Regions from separate parts of the Homo sapiens genome. Here region 2 is linked to region 1. Evidence: fine-mapped expression QTL. A gene starts in region 1. The other region holds a variant in brackets. All regions are shown on one strand. Distances are from middle to middle.

Region 1 (12,893 bases):
AGGCTTCATCACATTCCATGGAAAGGAGATAATTGCGATTGCTAAAAAGATGGTGTGCAGGCAGGCGGCACACTCCAGCACATTGCACATAAAACAAGCCATGCTGGAGAATAAAGATCTGGGAAAGGGTTTCAGGGTTTGTCATGTGTGTGTGTGTGTGTGTTTGTATTCACTTTAATATTAGCAAATTATATTTCAGAACACTTGGAAAATGGAAGATTACTTATAATTTCACTCCTCTTATCACCATTTTTTGAATTTTGAGTATCTTAACTATTTTCCCCCTGCATTAAAAAATATGTAATTGTAGTAGACATCCGTATACAATCTAGAATTCTGATTTTTTTCACCACTTAATATTAGAACATAGGATTTTTCTCATCACTTTGTAGTCTTCATAGCAATAGCCATAATTTTAATATCTAAAGTGTATTCTACCCAATGGATACATTGTGATTTACTAAACCATTTTCCTATTTTTGGGACATTTGAGTTGATTACATTATTTTATTATTACCAGTGATGCTATGATGAATACCTGGGTGGCATAGGAATATGGAACTAGTAGAGACTTTAAATGTTACTTGAGGCTCTTTTCCCCCTTGGCGTTCAGAAGAGGACTTTGTTTTTTTCACAGCACAACTGGAGAGGTGCCAGCAAGATAGACTATAATGCAATTGACCCTTCGTGGGATAATGCTATGGGGTAGCCAGGGGGACATACGAAGTTCTGTTATACATTTATGGATTACAGGGGAGAATCAAACCCATAATTTCCACAATGGAAATATTTAACTTGAGGTTTATACAGCCCGTATCACTGAAACGGACAATGGAAAATGTGGCTGCAACTACTGTTACAGCTGCTGATATCCATTGCAGACATGGCCCAGGATTTCTCCACTTGGCTTCCCATTCAAAATTTGGAATGGATGCTGTGATTGGTGGAGCAGGGGTATGTGCCAGTGACCAAGTGAGGAGACTGGGAAAATTGGCATCTTAACCTGAGCTCTTCAGAAAAGAGAGCCTGAGGCAGAGGCAGGGTTTTATGTACTGGTGTATACATATGAGGGCATGTGACTGAGCTGACCATAGTTTAGCATGAAGACTGAGCAGTCTGACTAGTTGCACGATCTTGTGGGCAAGAGGCTGCAAAAGTGACAGCTTCTCAGGGAAGTCCATTCAGAATGGAATGGAGAATTTATACCCTAGCTCCTGTTTCCCATTGTCACAGGTTTGCCCAGTGTTACATCTGTCCCCTGCACTTTCAGGTTGTACGTGCTTGAGCCAAGCAAATGCATTTTCATGTCTCAGCACCAACAAGGAAATGCTGGTGCAGGAGGTTAGAGGTGCCCAGCATTGGCATGAGGTGAGGTGCTGTCAGGCTGTGTCTAGGTGAATCAATGACAATCCATACAGGGTGGTCACTGCAAAGGTGAGACAAAAGAAAATGAATTGGAGCATAAAAGTTATTTGGTGCGATCTTTTTAGCTTCTCTCTTGAAATGTATGCTCTTTCTGTCAGGAGCCTCCTCTCACATCAGCTGGGTACTAAAAAAAAAAAAGGATGAATGTCCACTTTGGTACCTCTGTATTATTTCAGGGCATTTAAAAAGCAAGTTCTACTGATGGGAATCACAGATACTGAAAATAATGATGAAATAAAACCTTGTGAATATATTTCCTGCAGATTAATAGTTCTTGAAATTAAAGACAAAGTCATTTCTGAAATTGCTTTTGGCAATAGTACTCATTCAAGATGTGGATGTATTGAACGTGTATTCTGGAGTCTGTGTTTTATGGATGCATTCTAACGAGTTTCAAATTTTGTGTTCTCTCTGGTTCTCTGTGCCACTCATAATGTTTCTTTCCAACAATTTGTTTTGTCTTCTCTATGATTTGTTGATGAATTGCTTCAAGAACTAGTGATCTTAGACATACATAGTATGTCTTTGGAAAACAAAGGACGAAGAGAATAGAACTTGAAAATTAAATGCAGTATTTATGGAAGGAATTAAAACTCTTCAATTACAGTTTTTAGTAACTTTACTTTGTATGTATCAGAGTCATCCTGAATGCTGATGGTCATGGGGCCAGAGGGAAAAAGAGAAAACCCTTGAGTGTCTAGTATTAGCTCTGACTGAGATGATAATTGCTTTTTTGTTCACAACCAGAATTAGTCACACAGCCCCACTACAACCACAAGGGGGCAGGAAGTGCAGTCCTGTGGTATGCCTAAAATGGGGGAGAACCATGACTATTTGGCAAACAGTAACAATGACTACCACAGCAGGGTTGGCATTTTTAGCAGTTAATGTTACAGAAAGCTTGTGTGACAAGTAATATGCAGCAGGTTTGAGGCTGTGGTGTGCATGGCATTTTTAGACGTTTAAATTACAGAAAGGCTTATTTGTAAAATGAATATGTAGCAGGTTTGAATGTATAACCACCAACACAGCTGTTCAAAAGGGTTTAAAAAAATCTTTATTTGCTTTAAATTACTGTAAATCTTACTCTGAGTCCCTATTCCTCATAAAAATAGTGGGAAATGCAATCTCAGTCTTGTTGGGGCTCCCCTGCTGCAGAGTTATGCAGTCAGGGGAGATCTTTGGCTTAGCTCAGCATCAAGGAGGTCTGATCTTCAGTCCACTGGGCACTGCTGAAATGTGCAATAGTCAAGCCCACATGTGATCCCTCTGGGGCTGGGGACTCTGCTGCTTCTGGACAAGCTGGGAGGCACCAGAATATCTGCTGAAGCTGGGAAGCCTAATGGCTAATGGGCCTGCCTCCCATGGGGCATCACACTATGATCCCTCTGAGGCTGCTCCACTTCACCAAGCAGGACCTGAGTGCCTCCCACACCTGGGGATTAACAGCCTCGGTCCCTTTCCTAGTATGAAGTAAACTCTTCCTGTGCTCATGCTTCCTTAAAGGACAAGAAGAGCTGCTGATCTTGAGCAGCTTCTCTTTCTGCAAAGCACTGAACTTCTGAAGCCACTTATTCCATTGGCACACAAGGTCTGCCTCACGTGATCATTACCCATGGTTGAAAGAATTAAAGGAGACCTGTAAAAGCAATTGCCACAGTGAAGCTCCAAGAGTGTGAATGGAGAGTGAAAGTGTAAATCAACTTCAGTAAAAAACAATGGACAGAGCAGGGGCAGGGCTAGGAGAAGAAAATTAATATTTATTGTGTACCCACGATGTGCCAGGCCTTCGTAAAATATTTTAATATGTGATCTCACTTAACCATCACAGCAATACTATGAAATAGAGAGTATGAGCCCATTTTACAGAGGAGGAAACTGAAGCTCAAAGCGTTCTATGTCTGCATAAAAATAGTACTGATAGCTAATATATATGATGCTTACTATATGCCAGTCACAGTTATAAGATCTTTATGGGTATAAACTCATTTATTTCTCATGATAGTTCCACTATATAGGTGTATATTTCTATTTTAGAGATGAGAAAATTGAGTCATAGAGATTTCAAAAGATTTACCCAAGGTCACGCAGCTAGAAAATGATGAGGTCAGAAATGACTCCTGGCAGTCTGCTCCAAAGTCCGTGCTTTAAACCACTGTGCTGTACTGCCGAGTACAGTATAATGCTGTAGGGAGAAGGAGAAAGAGAAAGACAGAGACAGAGAGAAACATACAGAGAGATAGACAGACACACACAGACTCAGAGAGACAAAGACAGAAAAACAGACCGAGAGAGAGGGAGACACAGGGAGAGACACAGACACACACACACACACACACACACACACACACAGATCATAGACAAATTCTAAAATTTGAATATATATGTTGAAATTACTTAAGACTTTCTCCAAAGAGGTTCAGTGCCTTTCCAAAGAGTTGAGCCTCAAAATTAGTCCTGGGATGCAGCCTGGCACCTGAGGCCAATGAAGAGTGGACTCTGCCCTGTCTTCTCATACAGACACCCAGCCCCTTTGAGCTGAAAGGTAAATTAGCAATGTCTGCCATTGCCTACTATTGAAACAGAAAGGCTGTGTCAGCATTCCAAATGGGGTGGCTGATGACTTGGCAGTTAAATACTCAAAACAACTTCCCTGAAAATGGAATATTAAGAGCATGCTTTTTCTTTCTCAGGTGCCATTTCTTATCACCTGGTTGGCTAGAAGCCAGATGCTTTTAAACACTAACACTGTTTAAATTTCTTGGGGTCAACTCTTTGTAAACAGTGCTGGTGTTTGTACAAAGTAACATTGGCCCTTGACTATAAAAGCTTAAAGATTCTTGGCTTTCCAAGCAGCCAAGTTACTTTTAGCCCAAGGAGATAGGTAAAATATACTAATTTCCCAGAGGGGAAAAAGATCATTTCCCCTTCTTTCAGCATCTTTCAGTGGTAACTTCAAATAGGTGAATAGAAAGATTAGGTGTCTTATTCCTGCCATAAAAAGACGACTAAAGCCCAGATTTTCTGATCCCTTTCTGCTAATTAAAGTACAGAAGACTAGATTCCATGGATTTTATTTTACTAACCCTTCCAAAGTGTATAGACTGATATGGTATTTTCAGACTGCTTATCTTTGAATAAAATTTATACCCAGTGATCATATTTAGTTTTAATGTTATTACTTGGTATAGCTATTCTAGCATCAGACACAAGGACTGTAAGTGATCATCCCATGAACTACTTTACAAATGATTTGGCTTTTTTTAAAAAAAAAAAAAACCACAACACGTGAATACCTAATTGTATACTCAATTAGTATAAATAGCTAATCTGATTTGATCAGATGATCAAAATCCATATGGCTCATATATCAAAACTCATCTGGGATCACAGATAGATACCCTCTGCTTGATGCATTAAAAAATTCCTGAAGAGCGCACAAAAAACAAATTTTGTTTTATAACAAATCGAATTATAATTTACAACTACTAGAGAAACTGGCTATGTGAAGGGCTATCATGATAAACTATTTTATGAATCAAATAATGACCTTCAATCTTCATTTATTAAGTTGTGTCTTTTCTTTATTCTTTCAGAATAGATTTGAGGCATACATTGCAACTCATAGTTTGTAAATTTGAATATTTGGGTTTGTGAAAACTGGTAGACTAAACATGCAAACATAAAAATGCTTTAAAAGTTATCCTTCCTTCCGCCGGGCACGGTGGCTCATGCCTGTAGTCCCAGCACTTTGGTGAATCACCTGAGGTCAGGAGTTCGAGACCAGTCTGGCCAACATGGTGAAACCCCATCTCTACTAAAAATACAAAAAAATTAGCTGGGCGTGGTGTCGGGTGCCTGTAGTCCTAATTACTCCGGAGGCTGAGGCATGAGAATCACTTGAACCCGGGAGGCGGAGGTTGCAGTGAGCCGAGATTGCACCATTGCACTCCAGCCTGGGTGACAGAGTGAGACTTTGTCTCAAAAAAAAAAAAAAATTATCCTTTCTTCAAAATAATTTCTGTAAATTGTTAATAACGTCTAAAATGACTATTGAAAGATTAAAACATCTTTTATCATATATGCCAAGAGTGTTCATGACTAGCAGAAATTTACCTTTGACTGTTTATCAATTTATAATTGTAGGATTTCAGTTCCTTCCATTAAAAGTGTGGCCTAGATTATAGCACTTGCTGGCATTTACTATTTTGGTCATCCTATTACAGATGATTATAGAGAGATTTGTAAGTGCTTTGCTATTTTAAAATTTATTTCCAGGTCAGTCTGAAAATTTTTACTTTTTCAAAAGAAAACATAGACTCTTGCGGGTATGTTTACATTGTAGTATTTAAATTTATGCTGAATTTACTGTTTATATGAATGATCAGATCCAGTTAAATACATTTTTATCTACTTCTATGGAGATTTATGAAAATAAAGCAAAAGCAGGAAGAAGGTAATGACTTACACGGTAATTGTTATTTATAATTTAAGTACATTAATTATGGCAAGATAAGTTATAAGCAATGGGAAAAACCACTTGTTTTTAAGTCTGCATATGTGTGTGTGTATGTATGTGTATACATATATATTCCTGTTACATCAGAAGGTTTTTGCTTGAATTGTTTCCTAATTTCTCTCTTACTGATATATATATTAATGTGCTATGGATTATGATGGCTATTATCAAAATATATAATATATGTAATATTGGAAAATTTATCTTTCATAGAAACTTCAAACAAAAGTGACATTTAAAATTATATGTGATGAACACATTTTACCATGTGCAATACATGCATTTGATATAATTTTGCCACAGAAATAATAAAACTAACAAAAGTGTGCTGAATATTATTTCACGTGGGGGGGGGTGTAAAGGCATAACGCTTTCATTTTTGCTTTATATGGCTAGCTCCCCATCACTGCACTAGTGTTGGTTTTTCCTTTTAGTTCCTTTTGACCTTTTAGCTCTTTCCACCCTTCCATCTTTCCTAGCCCAGAAAACAGGTGTAGGAGGAAATTGGTTTCTTTATGAACTCTCCTTCCAGCCACAATAATCTCAGATTGACTCCACTCTCAAGATCCCGTGCTAAGCTTTGTGTTTGGATGAAAACCCAAAACATATTGTAAAATTTAATATTGCGTTTTCATATGCTTAAACCTAATTTACCTTTTAGAAAAAAAATTTGCATATTTCTTCCTTCTTAAGGGCCCACACACAATGTGGAAAATGCTTGGAGGCAGGATGGTGTGATAGGTTCTCTGGAGGTTTCTGAGAGGGGCATTGAAGTCGACTTTTGTTTCTCTTTTTTTCTTCTCCCTAAGCTTTAGTAATATGAAACCTGGCAGGGATGTCTTAAGCCAGCTCTGCACGGAAGGTGGACCTAAATTGCCTCTAAGCTGATGAGCTGACCCTCCCCTCCACTAACCCTCCACCTCCACCTTTTCATTTCTGAGATGAAACTTTGAAAATTATTATTATTATTATTATTATTATTATTATTATTATTATTATTTGCAGGAAGCTGTGTCTGCAGACTATGAACAGAGGAATCGTCTCCACTGCTCACTGACCCTAACCCATTGGGTCTCTGGCTAAAGCAGAAGAGTCCCACACCTGAGGGGAGGGTGTTCGCTCTGAACACACAGCTTCAAGGATGTTCTGCTCTAATGGAAAGGCTCTAGACTGTAGCTAAGACTTTCACTCGTCCAGATATTTACAGTTTGAAGGACTTCCCTCCTGATATTTTTGGCAATAAAGGAGAAAATCATTTCTCCTCAGAGCATTTGAAATTGGAAAAATAAACGTGCTGTGTGCAGCTGAATCTTCTAAGCCTTTGACATTTTTCAGTGGCAGGATGGAGGGTCCGTATGGACAGTCAGACTTGAGCGCTTGAACACTTACAGTCTTTGCGTCTGCAAAACCTGGATAATCACTCCATATACCACCTGCCGGGAACTAATTTTCTTGTCATTTCATAAAAAAAGATTCCCAGTCTTCTAGACAAGTTGCAAGGACTGACTAACGCGGGGGAATGCTTGCATATCAGCAGACCAGAGGTGGTGTAGACGCCAAGCGTGGACCGAGTCCCGGGGCGCCCCAGAAGTGTCTTCTCCCCGAGCGACAGAGTTAATGCCTCGCATTAACAGCTATGAGTCCCTCTTGGGTTTCTCCCACTCCCAACACCCTTCTCTGAGCCCCTGGCCACCGTCGCCTTCTCCTCTCGCGCCCCACTGACCAAACATCCCTTTCATCAGGTGGGGTTGGGGTGTCTAGTTTTCGGGAAGGATCGCGCAAGGGTTAATGATGAAAGCTGGCGACCAGGTGGGGCGCCCACACCCGCCCCCGGCCACGGTGGGCGTCGGAGGTGAGGGGGCGCTATTCGGGCAGCAGTGCTCCGGGTGGCGCGCGGGAGAGCTGCCAGGCTGACGGAGAGGCCGGCCCGAGTGGGGGCCGCTCCGCCGCCGCCGCCGCCGCCGCCGCTGTGATGCGGAGCCGGTGCTGCGCCGGGCGGTGGAGTCAGAGCCCGGGCGCGGGAGCAGGAGCTGCAAGATCAGCACCAGCGGCTCCGGCACCTGCACCAGCTCCCGGGCCCCGCGCTGCGCTCTCCGCCCCGCCGCACTCGGGGCCGTCGCCCCGCGCTCTCTATGGATGTCAAGGCGGCCCCCAACGGGGTGGCCACTATCGAGGACCGGATCCTGCGGATCACCGGCTACTATGGCTATTATCCAGGTTACTCCAGCCAGAAAAGTAAGACGCCGCGCGGCTGCCCTGCGCGAGGCGGGGAAGGGAGGTGGGCGCGCAGGGGTGCCGCGGGGATGCGGACGGGCGGGCGCGCGGTACGGACACCTGCAGCCCTGCGGACGCTGTCAACACCGCCTTCCTGGCGGCGGGGACCCCCCGGGGAGAAAAGTATGTCCGCTGTCCTCGGTGCTGAACCGTGAGAGGGCAAGGGGCCCGGCTGGGTGCGCCCAGGAGTTTGGAAACAGTCGTAGCCTTGGGGGGAGGTGCGGAGGGGACCTGGTGAGCGCTCCTGACCGCCGTTGGCCGGCTCACCCTGGTGGATTTACGCCCGGAGGAGGCTAACATGGCTGTTCACTTAGCGGAAAGTCAGCCCTAGGGGATACATGCCCCGAAAGCCCCTACTGCGTGCGGGGCGCTGGGGACGCAGGCTGGGGAGGCTCGGGGGTGGGGCTGGCGGGGGCGGCCGACCCAGACGTGGGTCCCGGCGCTGGTGGGGTCAGCTCGTTCACTCCGGGCTGTTGAGACGCTGCCAGCGCGGGAGTTACTCCGGTTACAGTATCTTTAGGAGGTTCTTCACCCTGGGAAGAGAAAAGAACCTGCTCAGGTCTCCGAGCCCCAGAGCTTGGAGCCAGAGACCCGTGCAAAAGACTGGGGGCGTGGGGGGGGGGGGTCTGAGAAGGGGAGGCGACAGGGCCACCCGCCCCCGCCGCACGTCGCGGTCACCGCTTTCTTCCAGCTAAGCGAGGTCATGCGGCGTGGATGCTTTCACGTTTTTGGACCAGTTTTGGTGGGAGGGCGATGAGGTGTGCTCTGCTCGCAGTCCCCCTCCCCCAGTACACAAACCCACTAGCTATATTTGCTGGGATTAGTTCTACTGGCGACTGAAGTGCAGCTCATTTTTCTTCGAATTGGAGGAGTAGCTGCGGTTTAGTTTCTATGCAGGTGGGCTTTCGCTTTTTTCTTTATCAATGCATTTCTGTTGCAACAGATGAAGCTTAATTGATGTTTTTGCCGTTATTGTTGTCAGAAGCTTGGAAGCTCCTAGATGCATTTCTGATACGTATTTTTCTATGACATTTGGGGTGCAATCAACATTACAGTTTCTGTGATGCGTGGGACCCACAAAAATTCCGGCACAAAGACAAGAAAACACTATTTTTTCATGTAACTTTCTCCCCTACCATGCTTCCTCTCTATTGAATAATAATTCAAGAGCTTTGTTCCATGGGCTGTTCTCACACAGATATTTTCTAGTTCGATATTTCATCTGGTTTCAGGAAAGGCCTATCTGATTTGGATGGTTTCTGTCTAGCTGTTTTTAGCATTAGGGGCTTAAATTATTCATTTTCCATACAAAAGTAATTATATAGTGTTAGAATTTTCTGGAAAGAAAATAACACACTGTGGAATGCCCTTTGAAGTACTATACACTCAAAAACTTCTCCTTTTTTATTGGCAAAGGATTTCTTTTTTAACCCTGGAAACATAAGTAAAGGAACTAATATATCTTGTGGAAATTACTTGACTTTCACCTTTGAATATTTTAATTAGGAACCATGGGATTTTAGTGGCTTAGAGAATGTAGAAGCTGTGTGTGAAATTACAAGACTCAGGGTGGTTTATTATTGTAATTTTTATGACAATGGAACTTTGGCTAACAATGAACAACCCAAAAAGAATACTGAAAAAGTGACATTTTAGATAAGAACATGTTCATATTATATTTTTGTACTTGCTCAAATAGCTGCACATGCTTCATTTGCAACACAATAACAGGACAAAAAAAGGGAAGAGCACTGGCCAAGGCTATAACTGGTAGCCAAAAGGGATAAAGATTAACTTGGCATGGTTATTTGTGATGGGCACTTACCTACCTAAGTTCAGACCGTAGAGTTAAAAGAGTGAAGGCAGAGAATCTCACAAGAAGAGAGAATTAAGTGATAGTCAGATAAATCTCAGGATGCTCATGCTTTCGGAAGTAGAGAAAGATTGCTATTTTGCACAGTGAGAGATTGAGAGAGGAGAAAGCTGGAGGAGGGCCAGGGAACCGAGCACCATGAAATAATCCTGTCCTAATGCAGGCTTCAACTAGTAAACAAACACACTGAAGCAAACCAGTACAATATGGTCAATTGATTTGGCTGTTACAGGGAATGAGCAACAGCTTAGGGGAAGTCTGGAAAAATATACTTAAGAAAAGGCTACAGTGATGAATATATAATATGTGAAAGCAAGGTGACTTTCTCATTTCCTGTCTGATCACATATGAAGGACAATCTCTAGATATCTATGCCATTTACCTTTTTGGAGATAGACGGGGACTTACCTCTAAGAAAATGCACTGAAGATCAAGCCTTCTGTTAATGCATCCTGCTGTTTGCTTGTACCTTGTTCAGAAAAAATTCTAGTAGTCAGGCTGATGCAAAAAAAGAAACATGATAGAATTCAGATAAATGAAGGTACTTTAATGGGCAATAGGGCATTTGTTTTATTTATCCTGTTCAATTAATGAACAGTTATTGAGTAAATATAAATAAGAAATCTGGATACAAAGATGATTAAAGGTGGGTGCAGTGGCTCATGTCTGTAATCCTAGCACTTTGGGAGGCCAAGGCAGGAGGATTGCTTGAGGCCGGGAGTTCAAGACCAACTTGACCAATGTAGTGAGACACTGTTTCTATATTTATTTAAACATTTTTTTTAAAAAAGATGATTAATGCATAGTGTGGTTACTTAGGTAGGGAATAGATTCATTCATTCAACAAGTGTTAATTGAGCACCTCCTATGTGTCAGGAGTACACCAATGAGCAAAACAGACAAAAGTATTTTCCTTTTAAGAACTTAAGTTCTAGTGGGAGCAAACAAGACAATAAAGAAATAAACAAGTACATAAATTATTTAGTATGTTTCAAGGTGATAAGTGCCTTTTGAAAAATTACAACAGGATAAAAAGGATAAAATATTCTGGGGGTAGAAATTATCACAATTTTAAATAGGCTCATCAGGGAAGTCCTCACTGAGGAAGTAACAATTCAGCAAAGACCTGAAGGATATGAGGGAGTTAGCCATATGGACATCCAGAAGAACACATTCTGGGCAGTGGGAATAGCTAGCGCAAAGATCTGAGGTAGAGTACAACTAGCATGCTGGAGAAACAGCAGGGAGGCCTGTATGGCTGAAGTGGAGTGAACAATTGGGAAAGTGGTTGGAGATGAGGTCACTGAGGATCCAGGAGTGCAGATAAAGGAGGGCCTTAGAGGTCATTGTCAATCCTTTGGCTTGTATTCTGAATGAAATGAGCATTTGAAGAGTTTTGGGAGAAGAGTGATGTGACTTATCTTACACAAAGATCAGTCTCACTGCTGTACTGGGACAGGGTGAAAACACCTAATTAGTATGTTATTGTGATAACGTAGGTGAGACATGATGGTGGCTTGAACCAGAGTTGTAGCACTAGAAGAAGAGAAAGGTGGTCAGAGTCTGCATATATTTGAAATTAGAGCCAATAGGGTACCCTGATAGATTGGATATGGTATCTGTAAGAAAGATAGGAGTAAAAAATGACTGCATCTTTTCTGGTTTGACTAAGTTTGAGTTGCCATCAGCTGAAGTGTGGAAGGTTTCAAGGTAGAGAAACTTTGGAAAGGGGTGGGGGGTGGATTGTCAGGGGATAAGGATAACGTTTTAGAGATACTAAATGTAATTGGAGATGTAGAGTAAGCTTAGAGTTCAGAGTAGATGTCTGATTGGAGATATAAATTAAGGATTTGCCAGTACTTGGGTGGTATTTAAGGCCTAAGACTGGATGAGACCTCCAAGGAATGAATGCATATAGAGAAGAGAAGAGGCAGAAGAATTGAATTTTGAGACATTCTGACATTAAGAGGTTCAGGAGAAGAAGAAAACCATCAAAGGAGATCAAGAAGGAGCATCCAGGGAGATAGGAGGAAAACCAGGAACATGTGTTACCCTGGAAGCCAGTAAATAAAGAGTTTGAAGGGGAAGAGTTTAGCTGAGTCCAATGCTATTGAAAGGTCAAGTAAAAAGAAGACCGATTGAATTTGACAATTAAAGGTCATGGGTGATCTTGACAAGAATGTTGACAAGAGCACATAAGGATAGATAAAATGGATTAGAATGTGTATAAGAGAGAATTAGAGGGAAGAATTGGAAACTGTGAGTATAGATGACTCTGCAAGGATTTTTGTGCAAAGGGGAGCAGAAGAAATGGAGGAAGCAGGCTCAAGAAAGTTTTTCTTTCTTTAAAGATTGGAGAAATAAGAGCAAGTCTGCATGCAAATGAGAATGATTCAATAGAGAAAGAAAAATTAATGAAGTTGGAGAGATAGTGTATGGAAACTAGTACACAAGAGAAGGGACATTGCCTTAGATAGGAACATGGATATAGGGTAAGGTGTGTGGGGCCCGTTTGGGAAAGTGTATAACTGAGATGGTGGGAGTCTGTTGAGGTTCTCTTCTGGTTGCTGCAGTCTTCTCCAAGTAGAAAGAGAGATCACCAAATGAGAGTGAGGATGGTGGAGGACATGGTAGAGGCTGGAGGATAGAGAAGGTATGAATAGTTAAAACAAATAGGGAGAGTGAATGGACTGGGGAAGTGCGCTCAGGTTGTCTGGCAGCCTTAAGGGTCCGTTTAAAGTTTTTGGTCACAAATTTAAAGTAAGACCAGCCAGTAGGTTGGCTCATTCATTAACACAGTAA
Region 2 (12,893 bases), 33 kb after region 1:
TTCAATCATGAGTGATAAGGTTTCTGTTTTGAAATTAATAATGAGGTGGTCTGATGGTTAACCTTTAGCTCTTTAAAATGAACGAGGATGAGAGGTACTCAGATTTTGAGAGCCTACACCCATGGGAATCAATGTCAAAGCCCGTTTCCTAGAAGTCTCATTTAAGTGTTTCCACAAGTATAGCTTGTACTTTTTTCCTTCTCCAGAAAACCTAATTTTCTGATAGTGAAATCTTTATCTTATTAAGTTGCTGGGTAACAAAGCTTGTTGTTCATTCTATTTTCAGCTACTTGGTATAGTCTCTATGACAAATTTAATCTATTGGAGCTCAAGTCAATATGCCATTACTTTAAAGTCTGTGAGTATTAGTTTATGCTATTTGTGACTGAGGGCACAATGCCTGGCATTAGGTGGCACTCAAATATTCAGAGAATTAATGGTTATCCTTTGTTTTGGATGGCAGTGTAGTGAAGTGGCTGTGAAAAGCATTTATTTTGAATCAATGTACTCTTGAGTTTGAATTCCAGCTCTTGTATCTAGCTTTATGACTTTGGAAATATGAATATTAAAAGTTCTCTCCTCCTTGGATTTTGCGAGAATTAAAACAGAAAATATGTGTAAAAAACATTAAGCACGGTGCCTGGGGACAGAGTAGGCACTCAATAAAATGTATGAATGTTATTATTATTAGTGTCATTATTAGATCACTCATCTGGATTGCTTGTAGAAGACTAGAATGAAGTGTGCATGTTTTGTTTAGGTCTTAGGTAAGAAGTCTGGGGCGTGTTTTGGACATGCTGTAGAGTGTTGATAAAGTTCTTAACTCTGGCTCTGCATCAGGATCTCCTGTGGAATATTTAAAAAATACAGATGCCTGGGCTCCAATTCAGGTCCCTGGAGCTGTGTCCTGAGCATGTACATTTTTTTCTGCAACTTTTTTTTTAAAGTTCAGGGTTACATGGGCAGGGTGTGCAGGTTTGTTACATAGGTAAACATGTGCCATGGTGGTTTGCTGCACCGATCCACCCATCACCTAGGTATTAAGCCTAGCCCCCATTAGCTATTCTTTCTGATGCTCTCCCTCTCTCCCCGCCTCCCTGAAAAGGCCCCAGTGTGTGTTTTTCCTCCCCACTCCCCGCTGCCCCTCATGTGTCCTTATGTTCTCATCATACAGCTCCTACTTACAAACGAGAACATTCAGTGTTTGGTTTTGTGTTCCTGTGTTAGTTTGCTGAGGATAACAGCTTCCAGCTCCATCTATGTCTCTGCAAAGGTCATGATCTCATTCCTTTTTACAGCTGCATAGTATTCCATAGTGTGTATATGTGTGCACATTTTTAAAAAGCTCCACAGGTGATTCTGATGCAGGCCGGGTCAAGAATCACTGCCATCAATATTACATAAAGAGCAACCGAAGGATAAGAAGTGAAGAAGGAGTGGAGTTTTCTAATATTTGACCTATCTTGGTGCTGAACAGGAACAGAGAAATATTGGTGAATAATGAACCTGGGCTTTGGAATCCAGAGTTTGAATTCAGCTAATTCACTTTCCTACTCTGTGGATACTAGATTTTAAGCCCCAGAGGTCAGGGGCCACATCTGTCTTTTGCATGTAGGTATCCCTAGACTGACATTAAATGACTTAACCTTAAGACCCCTGTGTCCTTATCTGAGAATTAATTTATATGACATATGGGTACCGGTATGGCAATATGAGCTCAACAAGTGGTTACTGTTTTTTTGTGTATGTACATATGGCATCCTCAAATATGGTCCCTACCTATTTTTTATTCATGCCATTCTCATGTGAATTCTCTATTCCAGCCATATGGACTGATTTACTAATCCTTGAAATAATCCTGTATTTTCCTGCCTTTTGCTTTACAAATATTCTTTACCTCTCTATATACACCTATAATCTCCCTGGCCCACAATGTAAAGTGATCATTCTTAAAAAAAAGTTCTTATAGTTGCATTTATGTTGGTACTTGATCATGGGCTATTTGGCACTTGATCACGTGCTACTTGTATCTTTTTTCCTATTTTGAGACTGAACTGTCATGTCTCTTATTGTTGTTGAGCTTTCCTTGCTTTTATATATATAGCTCCTCAGCTAGACTGTATTTAAACAAACATTGGACCTCAAAGGCAGAGACAGTACTAAATTATATTTCATGTAGCAAAGCTCAGTAAAGATGTGTTGATTTGGGAAAAAATGATTTGACTGTATATATTTTTTTGACTCCTTTTTCCTTCACAGGTTTTTGATCACAAAGTTTTTGTTGAAACTCAGACATACGTATTGCTGGCCCCTGACTAGAAGATAGTTTGAGCACATAGAATGTTTAGGGAACAAGCTATGATTTGGGAATTCTTAGGTTTTGAGAAGTAGGATATATTCTCCTTCTTTCCTGTTTGCCTTCTTGGGGATCTCCCATTTGCTCTTGAAGCCTCACCTCTGTTCTCCTCGCTTTTCCAAAACCTGCCCAGGAAGAGTGGGTTCTTTTTCCACCTGAGCTCATAGAACCTTTATTATGAAACATTGCTTTGTATCTCTTTGTTTATTCATTTATTTCTCCACTGGCCTCTGTGTTGCTAAGGACATTAATTTTGTCTTGGTCATCTTAGTATCACCGGCATTAAGCATAGTACTTTACCTATAGGAAGAACTGATTAACCACTGAATCAGTGTAAAAGCACGGGACTCATATTCAAGTTGTAGATACAAGATATGGCAAAAAGATGGTAACCATAAAACGGAAAAGCATGTCAAAAATGTGGTGCTTTCCCTGTATGAAAGGGGAGCCATGGAAGATATTTGAATGTATGTGTATTGGGGAAGGGGAGGTGAGCAGTATTCTGAAAAATGTCTTATTTTGGCATTTCTTGAAGAATTGGTAATTTATTCACAGAAAAGAGTGCTTATGAGGAAGGACGCTCTAGAACCTGGCACAAAAGCCCCTTTCTAGGGAAGATTGGCTTTGGAGAAGTGGGGGGTATCTTGGGTGACAGTGATGGTTCAAGAAATGATGGTATGATATGTGACGGTCATCAGGATGTGACATCAGTCACCTCATTGATAGCAAGGTTCTATTCAGCCGGGTTGGCTAGGTTAAGTCCCCTTCCTCTCCTATACGCACGTGTGGTCCCTATCCCAGAAGCTGTGAGATTGGTCAAAGCAAGTGGTCTTTCCAATTGGAGGAGGTCTACCCTTGGTCAAAGGCATGCGAGTCTGTATGCTCCCCTATTGGAGCACTAGGAGAACTACAGTATTTGAGCCAAACAAACTTTCAAGAAATTTGAAAGTGGCTCAGTAAGTTGTGGGACATACAGGTTGTCCGTTTCTCCATCATACCTCCCTTCTGCTCTTTTCGCTGCTAGAAAAATTCTTCGCAATTAGGAATTCCATCAAGCCCTAAATTCTTTGATGATTCCCTGTAACAGTGTCTCTTGAAGTGTGGGACAGATATTCCTGGTTAAATGCAAGATTTAGGTGGTACTCAGACATGGTGTTAAATAATTTTAAATTACACAGTGAAAAATTTATTTCATTTTAAGTTCCCTTTCAATCCTTCTCCTTCTGACAATGAGGATGTATAAGTGGAAGACCAGTGTAACATTTTCTAATCTCAGTTTTTAGTAAGGAGAAGAGCCTTCAAGCTAAGTGTTCCAATTACAAGCATATCATGCCATAATGTTAATAACATTTTCTTTTAAAAATTTGTGGCAAATTATTTCAGTTTTTAATATATGACAGTGATGTAAAATTTTAATGTTCTGGATGTAAGATGATATTTAGGAATTGTTATTAATTTTTTTAGGTGTGATGATGGCGTTATAGTCATTATCCTTTACAGATACAAATTATATATAGATGGAAAGATATAATGTCTGTGATCTGCTTAAAGTAATTCAGGAAGGGTGTGCTTGTGTGTGTGCTGATGGAGGTGGAGGTAGCGGTGGTGCTTAGGGGAGTACAAAGGAAACAAGATTGGTCATGGGCTGATATTTGCTGTGCTGAGTACATGTAGATTAATTATACTATTGTCTCTATTGTGTATATTTCAAAGTTTTCATAAGGAAATGTTTGAGTTAAAATAAAATTTCAGGCCGGCGCAGTGGCTCACACCTGTAATCCCAGCACTTTGGGAGGCTGAGGCAGGCGGATCACGAGCTTAGGAGATCGAGACCCTCTTGGTCAACATGGTGAAACCCCGTTTCTACTAAAAATACAAAAATTAGCTGGATGTGATGGCGCATGCCTGTAGTCCCAGCTACTCGGGAGGCTGAGGCAGGAGAATCACTTGAACCAGGGAGTCGGAGGTTGCAGTGAGCTGAGATCGCGCCACTGCACTCCAGCCTGGTGACAGCGAGACTCCATCTCAAATCAATCAATCAATCAATCAATAAAATAAAAAATAAAATTTCAATGTTAAATAAGTTGATTAATATGGAACAATAAGTGAGTTCAGAGAAAAACTATTAAGCAAATAAGAATAATATGGGTGGTATGTAGGTAAGTCATTAGTTAAACTACTGAAGTCTGCAAAACACTGGCTGCTGGAAAACATTCAAGCTTCTCATTGAGAAATCAAAGGTCCTTCCTGCTACAGGCCTTTCTCACCTCCTTTCTTGCCACTTTGGATTGCAATAATACCAGGTCACCGGTAGTTCCTAGTGTGCCATCCTCTCACAACCTGCATCTTGATGCAGATGGTTCTGTTTCTTGGAATGTTTCCCAAATGTGTTGTTTAGAAAATTCCTGCATTCTTTAACTCTCAGCCCAAACAATGGAAATTAAAAGAAAGGAACATTCTGAGAACTCTGAAAGAGCTGAAATCATTTGGAGACTAGACATGGCTTGATGCCAGAATAAGAAGGAGCCAAGGGTAACACTTAGGTTTTAACATGGCAACTTTGACAGACTAGCGAGGCTGGAAGGAGAGAGGTGTTCGTGGGTGATCAGTGCTAAATTAAATTTTAGGCATGTTGAGTTTGGCCTGTCCTCCAGGACTCCAAATTATTACTAGCAGCAGAAACTGGGCAGGGGTCATTCCTCTCCAGCCAACTCTTGAGTCCTCAGTAATTACATGACAGAAATGTTATAGAGTCCTTTTGCTCCTCTTTCTCTTTCTTGTCAGTCACATTTTGCGTATTGTTCTGCTGACAATGAGAAAGAGCAAAAGAAGGGAGAGGATGTGAAAAGCAAATCAGTCATTTGTTGCTTTTTAGGAGTGTTGAGAAAGTCTTGGGGGTTGGGAGAGTTAGAAACTGTTGATTTATGCAAATTTTTCCATTATGACTGACTTCTGATTATATTTCCCATCCACTGTTTTATCTGACTTCCAATTGTTGAGAAGTAGCTGTATTAATGTGGCTTCACCACAGCTTGTGAACTGCAAGGACTCACTGGAGACATACTATAGGACCTACTTGGACTCTGTATCCTTCCAAATGAGTTGGTGTCTGGTGAGGAGGAACAATATGATTACAGGATCTGAAGGAGATGGGAGGGGCCCTTTTCTTCAAGCACGGGTTGCCCCATGGGCACAGTGAATAACACTGGTTCTATTTTCATGTTTCTGTGGCAAACAGCAACTTCTGTATTGGTCTGTTAATACTTCAACCATTCTAGTTTGGTTATTTTTGTTTTGTTTTGTTTTGTTTTTGAGACAGAGTCTCCCTCTGTTACCCAGGCTGGAGTGCAGTGGTGCGATCTCGGCCCACTGCAATCTCTGCCTTCTGGGTTCAAGCAATTCTCCTGCCTCAGCCTCCTGAGTAGCTGAGATTACAGGCATGCACCACCATACCTAGTTAATTTTTGTAGTTTTAGTAGAGATGGGGTTTCGCCATGCTGGCCATGCTGGCCATGCTGGTCTCGAACTCCTGACCTCAGGTGATCCGCCTACCTCGGCCTCCTAAAGTGTTAGGATTACAGGCATGAGCCACTGTGCCCGGCCTATTTTGGTTCTCTGAGAAGCAATTTTTATACTGACATGCTGGATAGGAAGGATTTGATCTAAAAATAACATTGTTCTTTCATCATACTGGGACTTCCATTAAGTGAATGACGGTTTAGTTATACCATTGTCCTTTCTAACACCTGTCCTAATATCTCCCCTCCCTTCACTGGCAACAGAAATTAGGTACCAGTTCTACTGAGATGTTTTGCAATTGTCATCATTTTACTTTGTAAGCAAAAAGCATGTTTTTCTTTGTATTTCAAACTAAGGAATGCATGATTACCACTTTGGACCTCCTTGTGAGCATAAGATTTTACACTATTTGCACTGTAATAATTTATGACATTTTTATAGCTTACTGTTAGGGCTTGTACAAAGTAGAAGGAATGAATCTGTAGAGAAAAAAGAAAAAAATGAACACACCAATGTGCTGTAGTTATTCAGTGAAGTGCAAAATCTTGCAGGAGTTAGTTTTGTTTGAAACAGATTTTACTTCTCAGTACCCACTCTTTCTCAATTTTTACCAACTCAGTCCTTTTGGTGTTGACATTTTGTACTCTGGAGTTTTAAGATGTCATGCTTCATGACTTGTTCTCTGGGAAAGTGTTTCTTCTTGAAATGTC[G/A]GGTTGCTCTCATCTTAGGTGGAGTTTGGGGTCAGCCTTTGTTATTATTTTAATTTATAGACTTTTAATAATGAGGGTTGTTTCATTTGTGTTTCACTTAATTCAGCACAAGGTTTTGTAAATAGCCTCAGATTTATTTTAACATGTGAAGAGAGGGAACAAAAAGATTCCTATGGTAAAATTAAACATTTTCTCAAATTGAGGCTGTTGCTTGGTTTCTGTTCTTGTTAACGTGCATTTAAAAAATTATTTTCTGTGAAGCTAGTCTTCATAAAGGTGATTTGTGAATATATGAAAATGCAAGAGATGCACTAAAGTTGCAGTCTCCATGGTATATTTAAATATGCCAACAGCTACCCTAATGAGCAAATTTAGCATTTATCCAAATTGGAAAGCCAACGGGAGATTAGCTATGGCCATGGCTGGAGTCTGTATTCAAATATTCATTTGATATTGGTTGTAACTCCGGTGTATCCTCCTGATGTTGTGGATAGATTTATGCCTGTCAATTGAGGAGAGCATTTCTCACTCTCTGATATGCATCTGAGTCACCCAGGGGAGGTTTTTTGAAGTGAATGTCTCCCAGGCCTTGAGCCCCAGAGATTCTGAGTCAGTCATTCTGGGACAGAGCCCAGTCTTCTGTGTTTTGATTCATCAGAATCACCTGGGGAGCTTTTACAACATACCGATGGCTGGGCTCTATCCCAAAACACTGACTCAGATCCTCTGGGGGTGCAAAGCCTGGGTAATCTGTACTGATTTTCAGAAAAGAATGAAAATACCAAAATTATCTAGCAGAGATGGTCCTTTACAAGCATCATTTAATGTCACAGGATGTGCAGAGCTAGGGATAGGGTTAAGGTAATCTCATTAGGGACCGTGAAAGAATATGAGAATTCTGTCTGTCTTTAGTGAGATTGCCTTGCGATTAGATGATAACAAGGATGATGATGGTGACAATGACAACAACGTGACAGTAAGCTTTATACCAGTCATGCTTTTACTAGCTCTAAATAGAGAACTTTTGTTCTTGTTCTTTATGCATATGTGATTTTAGTTTGCCTAATTAATGTTATTTCAGGGACACCTGCTCTCGTGTTCCTACAATATTTATCATTAAAGAAATGAACAAATTCTCTAGCAATTATGAGGACTTGGAAAGAATAAAAGTACCCTGGGTCGTGTTGGCTAGGCTGACAGAAAATAATACCTGAAATATTTCACCACGTTTTCTCAAGGGCAAATTTACTGTAATGTGAAAAAATTTTTTATCAGTGAGTGTAATTTTACACATGAATTACAGTTCCAGCATTCTATTTTCAATTGCTATGTTTACTGCATCAGAAATGTATAGGGAATTTGTGTTCTCTTTTCCCTCATCTCATTTGTAGAGCCAGAACATGCAAAAATTGGAGTTGGTAAAAGTATTGTGCTAGGAAGATCAGGACTTTAGTTATCATTCTCTGTTTATTGTTTCTAATAAATTGTATTGTATATATTTGAGGTTTACAACACAATGTTATGGGATACATATAGATAGTAAAATAGTCCTGTCATAAAGCAAATTAACATGTCTATCATCTCACATAGTTACTTCTTTTTGTAACAAGAAAAGCTAAAATTTATTTATTAACAAAAATACAATATAATTTTCTTAACTATAGTCCTCATGTCATACATGAGATTCTAGGCTTGTTCATCCTACATATTCTTCTTCTATGTATTAATCTGTGACTTTGGACAAGCTACTTAAAGTCTTAGGGTCTTATTTTCCTCATGTATAAAGTGTTAATAATTTATCTGAAGGCAGGTGACTAGAGCAGTTAAACTCTTGAAGCCCATTCTGCTGCAAGTTCCTGTACTGAGTCTGCGGAAGGCAGAGGTGTGGCTAAGGCAACGTCAAGTGATGTGGGGTGGGCCGGGAGGGAGGGGCTTCAGAGCTCAGGAAGGCTGTATGTGCCTCCTAGCGTCCTTCAACCCTGGCCAACTTCTCCAATCTTGCTCCTGGTTGCTATGGTTTTTCCACATCTTCTGGTTTGTAGATTCATGAATTTATTAAATAATACGTGATAAAGCCTCAGTGGGACTCCTGAGTCATTTGTGAGGGATTAAAGACAATTTTACAGAGTTCTTTGCTGGCTTGGAGAGTTGCAGTGCTCAAAAACATGACTTGTGAAGACACGGATATACACTTATGATTAGGAAGCATTTTAGTAAAACATTCATGACTATTTCCTGCATTTCTATGGAAAAATAAATTCAATCACAGTAGGGTTTTTCACTTCATTGCTTATTAGAATGCATTCTTCTGCCTGGATAATATAAAGATAAAGTTAATGTTTCTTCTGTTTTGCAAAGGTGTTATTGGACCCACAAATATGCTCTGGTCTCTCAAGGAGAAAAAAGCTCCAAGGTTTTCACTCTTTAAATTACTGAAATAAAGGGAAATGATTACATGGTAATATTCCCTCTTGCTGCTTGAGAATTCCACAGAAAACAATAACACAGGATAGATTATTTACTGTGGCAGTTTGTGAAACATAGATTGCTGCTGTACTGCAAATTCTGCTTATCTCTTAAGAGCTGTCTGTACTGGGTGGCTTTAGTTTGTCCCTCCAGATTCACGCTTGGCCCTTCTCCACCCTCCTCTGTCCTGGGAGGCTATGCTGTATGCCTGCGTCTATCACTGTCTTGGTCAGCTTGGGCTGCTATCACAAAATACCAAAGATTCTGTGGCTTAAACATTGACATTTATTTCTCACAGTTCTGGAGGCTGGGAAGTCTAAGATCAAGGTGCCAACAAACTCTGTGTCTAGTGAGGGCCCTCTTTCCGGCTTGCAGAGGCTGCCTTCTCACTATATTCTCACATGGCAGGGAGAGAAAGATATTAGAGATACTGTGGAAGGAGAATGGTAGAACTTGGCATCTGTAAGAAGTCAGGAAAGGAATGGGAGGAATCGAAAATCACCTCCCTGCTCTGCTGGCCTGAGTGATTGGTGCAGAGTAATGGTGTAGAAACAGAAATGGGAACACAGTGAAGAAATCAGAGTTGAGAGAGAAGATGATAAATTCTGACAGAGCATGCATACCATGTCCCACCAGCATTCAAGAGCAGGGATGCATTCTATTTCATTTTTGCACCCCCAGTGCTTCAAATAAGTGCTGGTGTTCTCTATACAAGTGCTGTTGAACTTGCTCCACAGGTAGTCTGTGCAGAAATGGGCACTGTGTTCAGTTAGGGTGAATTTCTGATAAATTGGCTCTGGGTTTTTGATTTTGGGGTCACAGAGAAAGTGTAAAAAGAGTGTGTGATTCTTTGTCTTGCAACACCTCCAGCCATGGTCTGTTTTTGTAACCAGTGACAGCTTCCCTCCTCATAGATAAAGTTGGTATTTTACAGAATATATCAGGCATATACCATTTTCCCATTGAAGGTAGGTGGTCTGAAACTGAGATCTGAGCAGAGCCATCCAGAACCATATTGGCTCATTTAATTATGAGATTTTAAGTTATAGGCTTCATAAGTGAGTTTCCAATCACTTTGCTCTTTAAATTTTCAATCTTTCTCATGCTAGACTTCAGGTTTTCTAAGAAATATCTTTTAGGATTTCCATAGCATAACATAAAATTGGGTTGTAACTTCATATTTGGGGCATATTCTAAGTTACTCTTAGACTGTAAGAAGTATTTCTCTTGTCCGAAGCTAGGGAGATCCAAATAAAAATCTCCTCGGATATTATAAAGGAAGTGGTAGTTAACATACATTATTTCATTTAATCCTCACAGTGACTCAATGAGGTGGCATTACACCACATTTTCTCCGTTTTACAGATCACGAAACCAAGGATTACAGAGATTGATCAATTTGACCAAAACCACACAGTTGAAATGTTACAAAGCTGAAAAAAAGGCAACATATGTGAAGAGGAAATAATGCTACATAAACACTTTCTTTTGGAGTAGTATTTCTAGATTTTACTTCCATTACTTTTTTTTTGTAGGTAGCAGACAATGTATTGGAATATTTTTGTAAAGTTAAAAATTATATACTTTTTTCTACTCTTCAAAATTAAAACTGTAGAGGAATGGAAATAAGTTTTATTCTTGCTTATACACTCTCTTCTCTTTTCATTCCAATTTGCATTTAACTGCAAGATTATTCTTCCTGCTGTGTTTTTTCCATAAAGTCACTCTCCTGTTAAAAAACCATGAGTGATTTCCCATTGCTTATAAAATACAATTCAACTCCCCTATCTGGAGATTCTCAAATTTTTTCTTTTTTATATTCACGGCCTTCTTTGAAATATTGGAATTTTTATCTGCATGCCTGAAGGGATTAAAAGACTCAGAATCACACACAACCAGCCAGTGATCACTACCCACAACCCCTGTTGCAGTAGCGATTGGTCTCACAGCACCCAGGAAAGGAGCCACAGCTTGGCACCTTCATTCTTCTTGGCCTTTCTTCGGCATTGTGACACAGGTTGAGCCTGGTGCCAGGGCTGTGCTCTCCTGTGTACTTCAGAGGAAGCATCCTTTCAGGTTCCAGAGTGACACCATCTTTCCTGCAGACTTGGCCTGCCCTCTTGGTCACAGCGTTTTAGACCTGCTTTGTACAACTCTTTCAGCTTGTATTCTGTCACTGAGGGAACAATAGCTTTCCTCAGTGGTAGCAAACTATGTTTTTCTCATTAATAAAGTATGACAGCAGGGCACCTGTTTGAGAGTCACTTCCACAGGGAGCTGCTCCAGCTTTGAACTACATCTCTGCATAGTTCCCTTCCCCCACGACCCAGACCTATAGGCATTCTCTCTCCTGCCAGAGCGCTTCTGCTCACAGTGATCCCAGCTGCCTGGTTATCTTCTTCTACTGAAATCCTAACTACATTTCAAGATCTGGTTTAATTTTCATTTAATGACTTCTGCCCCTGGTGGTCCTGTTCTGAATGCCTCTAACATCATTTGTCTGTGTAGCTCATTTGGTGCTTGGATGTCAGAACCTTTGTGTGAACATCCCTGATTCAATAAAACTGCAATTAAAGGCAGGCCCAAATATTATATTTTGTACCTATTGCAGAACCTAATAAGCATGTGCATAGTGAATGCCCAGAAATCTAACTCCAAGGGCATTTAAAAGGAGGCATAGTGAGCATGGCTGTTTAAAAGCAATGAGTTGTGTAACATGGCTAAAAAGTGTCCCGTGGGTGAGCTTGGGCTATGGAGAAATTATTATTGTTGTTGCATAATATTATTCCATTTTCAAAATACCCTTGTGGAGCTCTGCTCACCTTTATTTCTAAGGCAGAATTGCTGAATCCTTCACCCCATGGCAGACCTCGGGTTGCCCAGAGTTTGCTGTTTTCTGAAAGAACAGTCCAACTCCTATCCTGGATCACCAGCCACGTGTGGAATGAGCTGGCCACTGAGACCAGGAGTGGTGTTGGTGACATTCTGTGACACAATGGACTTCTTGCACATATTTAAGAATTTGGCAGAGAGCACAGGCTGTTTACATTAAATTTAAAAAGCAAATTAATTTGAAAGGATTCTGGAGAGATGTGTGTGAAGAAATTCTACTACCATAGAAAAGTGATCTTTTCATCTTTTTAAAATTAAAATATACCCATTGCCTGAATTTTTAAATTCCCACCCTGAATTTTTCTATCACATGAGAATTTGGCCCAGTGTGTCTATTGAATTACCAATTATTATTATTTATAATACTCTCTTTCTGTTAGTGTTAGAATTCCTTGCAATGCTGACTATGCTCATAGCTTTTTCTGATGTGGTGGTTTCAGTCCTGAGAGAACATTTTCATCATGTGGAGCTTTAAAAAAGATCCTCATCGCTTTCCCAGACCAATCAAATGGAGATCTCTGGCATTGGATCTGGGGCATGGGTGTGGTTTTTTTGTTTAAATAAAGCTCTCCCAAGATTCAAACGTGCATCTGAAGTTGAGGACCACTGATCTCATGGGTTCCTGTGATCTCAACTGGAGCTTATTGCAAAGTGCATGCTTGTTGGTGAGCAGCTATATTAATTTTTGCCTTACTCAGTAATTACATCTGCAGGTCCCTTTAATGGAAATTATATGAGAAGAAACTTAGAAGAAGAGACAATTAGAATTTGGGATTCATCCTAGGGCTCCTTCATGACCAAAACAAATGTAGATGCAGGTTATTAGCTGAAATCTTGGTAATGTCTTCAGCTGAGGTTCATGCTTTATGGAAATTGTTCATGCATTTAGAAAAATAGCATGTCCAAGTTCTTGTTTAACAAGTTACTTATTTACTGTTTTTTTTTTTTTT

The links.
Region 2: its variant is fine-mapped to the expression of SLC35F4 in thyroid (GTEx, PIP above 0.99).

Annotation. Positions count from the first base shown.
Region 1 is chr14:57,861,009-57,873,901 of GRCh38, reverse strand. It overlaps SLC35F4 (solute carrier family 35 member F4), which reads left to right and starts at 7,810. Exons shown (of 8, transcript NM_001306087.2): 1 at 7,810-8,179. The coding sequence starts at 8,077.
Region 2 is chr14:57,827,804-57,840,696 of GRCh38, reverse strand. All of the region lies in intron 1 of SLC35F4 (solute carrier family 35 member F4), which reads left to right. It also overlaps the pseudogene RN7SKP99. Among named protein-coding and RNA genes, the nearest start is that of SLC35F4, 32 kb to the left of the region's middle. The variant G/A (reference allele first, on the strand shown) is at 6,586.